Linked DNA regions of Homo sapiens. The protein of the gene in region 1 purifies or fractionates together with the protein of each later gene. This does not show direct contact. Each region holds a gene or a part of one and is shown on either strand. Other genes may lie near its edges.

What was found.
Region 2: the proteins of ZDHHC19 (region 1) and DSG1 purify together in Homo sapiens (affinity purification with mass spectrometry; one large-scale study listed by BioGRID and IntAct). This does not show direct contact.

The regions. Positions count from the first base shown.
Region 1 is NC_000003.12:196,199,019-196,201,405, forward strand, and holds part of ZDHHC19 (palmitoyltransferase ZDHHC19), read right to left. Parts: intron 505-2,387; exon of another isoform or gene 328-504; intron 1-327. UniProt on the Homo sapiens protein: Palmitoyltransferase that mediates palmitoylation oproteins, such as RRAS and SQSTM1. Catalyzes palmitoylation of RRAS, leading to increased cell viability.
Region 2 is NC_000018.10:31,331,521-31,335,183, forward strand, and holds part of DSG1 (desmoglein-1 preproprotein), read left to right. Parts: intron 1-180; coding exon 181-347; intron 348-2,068; coding exon 2,069-2,203; intron 2,204-2,496; coding exon 2,497-2,682; intron 2,683-3,663. UniProt on the Homo sapiens protein: Component of intercellular desmosome junctions. Involved in the interaction of plaque proteins and intermediate filaments mediating cell-cell adhesion.

The DNA of each region.
Region 1 (2,387 bases):
TCCCCACCACTGCCCCATCCTCCTCCTCTTGGTCTCCACTGGCCACACACATCCTCCTGCTACCTCCTTCCAGATACTGAATGTCACTGTCTGGAAGGTCAGTTGAGCAAGGCCCAGTCGTATTTCCCTAACCATGATCACATGGCCCAGGAAAATCTGGGCTAAAAGCCTTGAACACGCAATGCGGTAAAGGCCAAGTCGTCCCCTGGGCACTCTTGACCTTGATCAGGTTCTCTCCCTCCTCTCTCCCCTTCGCCCACTCACTCTACCCATCCACCTCACCCCCTCCCAAACTCCCTCTCCGCCACAGGGCAGGCTGGGCCTCACCTGACTTCAAGAGCCTTTGCTGTCATGTTTTGTCACTGAAAGTGGCCCAGCAGCATCTCTGCCCACCACCAACTCCCCTGTGTCCCATGTCCCCGCTCTCCGCCGCAAAGGCTGAGATTTTCAACACCATTCTCCACCAAAGGAACCAGGACTCCATGCAAGGACAGCTGGCACTCACTGGAGGGAGGAAAAGTCTGGACAGCTCCATAACAGCTCACTGTCGCCACTCACTGTTGCCATAGGGCAATACGCATCCTTGCACTATTTGAGATTCTGCCTACTTTAAGGTATTTAAAGCATGTAAAAGAAACGTATTGGCCGGGTGAGATGGCTCACGCCTGTAATCCCTGCACTTTGGGAGGCCGAGGCAGGTGGATCACTTGAGGTCAGGAGTTTGAGACCAGCCTGGCCAACATGGTGAAACCCCATCTCTACTAAAAATACAAAAAATTAGCCAGGCGTGGTGGCGGGTGCCTGTGATCCCAGCTACTCGGGAGGCTGAGACAGAAGAATCGCTTGAACCCGGGAGGCGGAGGTTGCAGTGAGCCGAGATCATGCCACTGCACTCCAGCCTGGGCGACAGAGCGACACTCTGGCTCAGAAAAAAGAAACTGGTATTGTATTAGTCATTTAGAAGATTTTGATTAAATTTATGGAATTTGGGCCAGGCATGGTGATTGGCACCTGTAATCCGAGTGTTTTGGGAGGTGGAGAAGGGAGGATCTCTTGACCCCAGAAGTTCAAGACCAGCCTGAGACTTTCATCTCTAAAAAAATAAAAATAGGTGGCTGTGGCATTGTGCACCTGTAGTCTCAGCTTCTTGGGAGGCTGGGATGAGAGGATCCCTTGAGCCTAGGAGTTCGAGGCTGCAGTGAGCTATGATTACGCCACTGCACTCCAGCCTGAATGACAGAGTGGGACCCTGTCTCTAGAAAAACTAAAATCTAATAAAAATATATTGACAGAATTTTAAAATTTAGGGATATATATATATATATGTATATATATATATAATTTTTTTTTTTTTGAGATGGAGTCTTGCTCTGTCACCCAGGCTGGAGTGCAGTGGCGCGATCTCAGCTCACTGCAAGCTCCGCCTCCCAGGTTCACGCCATTCTCCTGCCTCAGCCTCCCAAGTAGCTGGGATTACAGGTGCTCGCCACCACGCCCAGCTAATTTTTTGTATTTTTAGTAGAGACGGGGTTTCACCGTGTTAGCCAGGATGGTCTCGATCTCCTGACCTCGTGATCCGCCCACCTTGGCCTCCCAAAGTGCTGGGATTACAAGCGTGAGCCACCACGCCTGGCCTTTTTTTTTTTTTTTTTTAGACGCAGTTTTGCTCTTGTTGCCCAGGCTGGAGTGCAGTGATCATAGGTCCTCACAAATTCAAACTCCTGGGCTCAAGGGATCCTCCCACCTCTGTCTCCCAAGTAGCTGAGACTACAGGCATGCACCACTATGCCCAGCCAATTTTTAATTTTTTTTGCAGGAATGGGGTCTGGCTATGTTGCCCAGGCTGGTCTTGAACTCCTGGCCTCAAGCGATCTTCCCACCTCAGCCTTTCAAAGGGCTGGGATTACAGGTGTGAGTCACTGTACCCGGCATTAGGGAAATAAATTTTTATTTATTAGATGTATATAAGGTATAGAAAAATGTTGATTGTATATGAGGCATAGAAAAATGCTTAAAGGAATGATGATCTTTAATAAATTCATAAGACTGACCCATACATTTTTCTTTTTTTTGAGACGGAGTCTCACTGTGTCGCCCAGGCTGGAGTGCAGTGGCACGATCTTGGCTCACTGCAACCTCCGCCTCCCGGGTTCAAGCGATTCTTCTGCTTCAGCCTCCCAAGTAGCTGGGATTACAGGCACCCACCATCACGCCCAGCTAATTTTTGTATTTTTAGTAGAGACGGGGTTTCACTGTGTTGGCCAGTCTCGAACTCCTGACCTCATGATCCGCCCACCTCGGCCTCCCAAAGTGCTGGGATTACAGCCGTGAGCCACCGCACCGGGCCAAAACTGACCAATACATTTGTACCTGCCTCTCCCACGCAA
Region 2 (3,663 bases), on another chromosome or scaffold:
GTTAGGCAAAGATATAGAAAAGAGCTAAGATATCCATATGTTGAAGGAGTAGAAAGGGAAGACAGTGAAGTCCACATCATAAGGATCAACTAACTCTAACACTTTTTTGGAAAGGTGATATACTCTACTGTAACAAAAATGTAAATCACCCATTTGCAATCAATTTTCCTTAATTTCTAGATACACTGGTGATGATACTCAATGCTACTGACGCAGATGAACCGAACAATTTGAACTCAAAAATAGCCTTCAAGATTATAAGACAAGAACCTTCAGATTCACCAATGTTTATTATCAACAGAAATACTGGAGAAATTCGAACGATGAATAATTTTCTAGACAGAGAGGTAATTCTTTTTCTTTAAGTGGGTTTTTGGTCTCAAAGGAACTGATTCTAAAAGCAAGGATACTGAAGAGACAAAGAGATGAAGAAAATGATGGTTTAAATTTTTACTTGTATAACTTTTTCACATAATTCTTTCATGTAAGAAATATTTTTTAAATGAAAAAGGGAGGATTTTTCAATTACGTTTTGTACTATTTTTCATATAATTAATTGATTAAAATTTACTTCAATTTAAGAAAACTATATTGTGAAAGTACATGAAAATATGCCTAAGGTAGAATCTAAGGTAGAATCAAAAGCTCCATTTCTCTAAAAAGTGTGTTCTATAATAAAATGAATTTAGGAATGACTTGCTATATGTCCACGTTTTGGTGAGTTACAGTGCATGCGAGTATGCTGGAGGCTCCAGGAATATTGATACACTAAGTTCTCTTTCTTTAACCTAGCATATCTAAGCTCCATTGACAACAGAATTCTTGTTTTTCCTATGTAACATCTATTGATAGCTCACCCATTCATTTACTTTGGGAAATGAACCACAGGATAAGAATGATGGATAGGAATTAAATGACAGACTGACCAATCTTTTTATTTACAAATAAGAAAATAACTAGTGATGTTAACAGAGTAAAATCAGCATTATGAGGTTTCTAGCATGCCTTGTGATTTTATGATTTAGTTTTAAAATAAGTGCTTTTTCATTATTTAAAAAAAATTGTCTTTTAATAGAATGTTGCAACCTAAATGTACATTAGGAGCATAAGTGAGGAAGCTTTATTTTCTGATGGTATTCAATTAATTTTGTTTTAATTATTAAAAATGACAATCTTCTTGCTGATGACTTTTAGGTTTAGGATAATTCATATTATTTTAATACTCTTTAATTATCTAAATGTTACAAGTTTCTATGTTACCTAAGTCTCCTTTTATACATGTTTGAAAATCAACATTAGAAGAAATTGAATGTTTACACTTTTCTCTCTCAAACTGTCTTAAACAGCCCAATGAGGTTTCTTTCATGTCAAAAGAGCTTTCGTGGTAAAGCACTGTAAGAAAGGGCTGTCAGAAGGAAAGGGACTCTGCAGCCATTGGGAAGCCACCAGGGCAGATATTCTCAACCTGGGGTCAATGGAGAGACCTCAAGATGTCTCTATAAAACCCCCTAAATTATATCCACCATTTTGAATGAGTGTGCATTTTTGCATGAGTCAAGGAAAGCCTCCATAGATTTTACCAGCTTCTAGAAATATAAGCACCATTGAATAGAGTCAAGAATAGATACATCACCAATAATTCCACTGCCATAACCCACTACCTCTCAAAACACAAAGCTTTGTTATCTGTTTATATGCTTCTTGCACACTCGGGGGCTGATTATTTAGGTTATGGAATATTCATGCCATAAATTTTTGGTAAACTTAATCTCTCTCCTTGAGATCATTCTGGTTTGTTTTACCCTTTATAAACTTTTTCAACCTCTGGACATATTATTATTAATAAGAAATGAAGCCTTTTAAAACGTGTTGCATCTTTTAAATAATGCGTGATAAGTATTATTGGGAATAATCATGTGAAACTTGTGGATTTCCCATATTCTGTGTTAACCCTACCTCTATCATAGATTTATGTAAACGTTGAGCCAACTTTTCAAAGAACTTTACATAAGACAAAGTAAAGGCTGTCTACGTCAAGTGTGATATTGCCTGTAATATGTATTTTTAGCAATACGGCCAGTATGCTCTTGCTGTAAGAGGCTCTGACCGAGATGGCGGGGCAGATGGCATGTCAGCGGAATGTGAGTGCAACATTAAAATCCTCGATGTCAATGATAATATCCCTTACATGGAACAGTCTTCAGTAAGTATTTGTTCTTGGAATTAATAAATCTAAATTCGCTATATTCTAAAACATATACGAACAATTCTGCTTACAGAGGCACATGTTATGTTTATTGACATACAACCCAAATGTAGACACATACTTTTTTCTTGTGTTTATGCAAGAATAAATGGAGTTAAGCAATGAAAAATGAGATGAAAACCACAGATATCTTTTCTAAATAATGAAGTTATCAACATTCCAGTATAAGCCTACTGTAGTTCTCTCTCTTTCACACAGTTTGTGCTAAGAGTTTTCACTTCTTGTTTCAGTATACCATAGAAATTCAAGAAAATACTCTAAATTCAAATTTGCTCGAGATTAGAGTAATTGATTTGGATGAAGAGTTCTCAGCTAACTGGATGGCAGTAATTTTCTTTATCTCTGGAAATGAAGGAAATTGGTTTGAGATAGAAATGAATGAAAGAACAAATGTGGGAATTTTAAAGGTTGTTAAGGTATGGTATAATTATCCTAAATATTTTGTTTTCTTAATCTTTTTTCAAAATGTTAAACTTAAAATAAAATGATGCTAACATTTCACAAACTTGGCTTAGTGAAAGAATAAAAATTACTGTGTTTTAAATATATATATAACATAGAGCTTTTTAATATAGTCTTTCTGCTTATAATCATTTTAGAAAAACAGGTATTGAATTTTAACTGGAGACAGTTTGTCAATACAGTACTCCCAAATAGATCATATAAATTGAAAACACTTAAAAATATATTTTATGCTTACAACAAAGTATAATTAATCCTTAAGGTTAATGTCTTAAGAACTTTTTAAAGCATATTTAATAGAGGCTTTAAAACTGTGTCCATGTCAACATTGTAAGTCAATTATTACACATGTAGAATATTCATCATGTAAATAAAAATGTATTTATTCCTCCCGCGTGTTTTCATAAAATTTAAGTTAAATTACTATAAATGTAGAATTATCACACTCCCATCTCACTGTGGCTGCTGATCAAGGCTTATTAGGAACACAGATATACTGGAAATTTGGTCCAAGTCAACCGGTCCAGAACAACTGGATGCCGTTCTCTTATGTCCTCCCCATATTAATGGTCCACATTTACCTGCAGTAAAATTTCATCTGAGATGTGAGAAAAAAAATTTGCCTCCTAGGGAGCTGATAGTCAAAGTTTCGCCCTGTGCTACACAACTTACACAGTCGATTTTTAAAATCTACAACAGCTGTTTATGGATTGTATATGTTGCATGCAATATATAGTTTCATGGTAAAATATAATCCCTATTTAACTATTTCTTTTTTCAGACTAGGTCTGGAAAACAGACTCTCAAACGACTCTGTCCCCATACGAATGTGTGGCTTTTTGCCTCCTGTGTCTTCTTAAAGTGTCACCATGCCTACAGCTTGTATTTAATTTGAGACAGTACGCAGGTGCTTTAGTTTATCCCTCACAGCATCC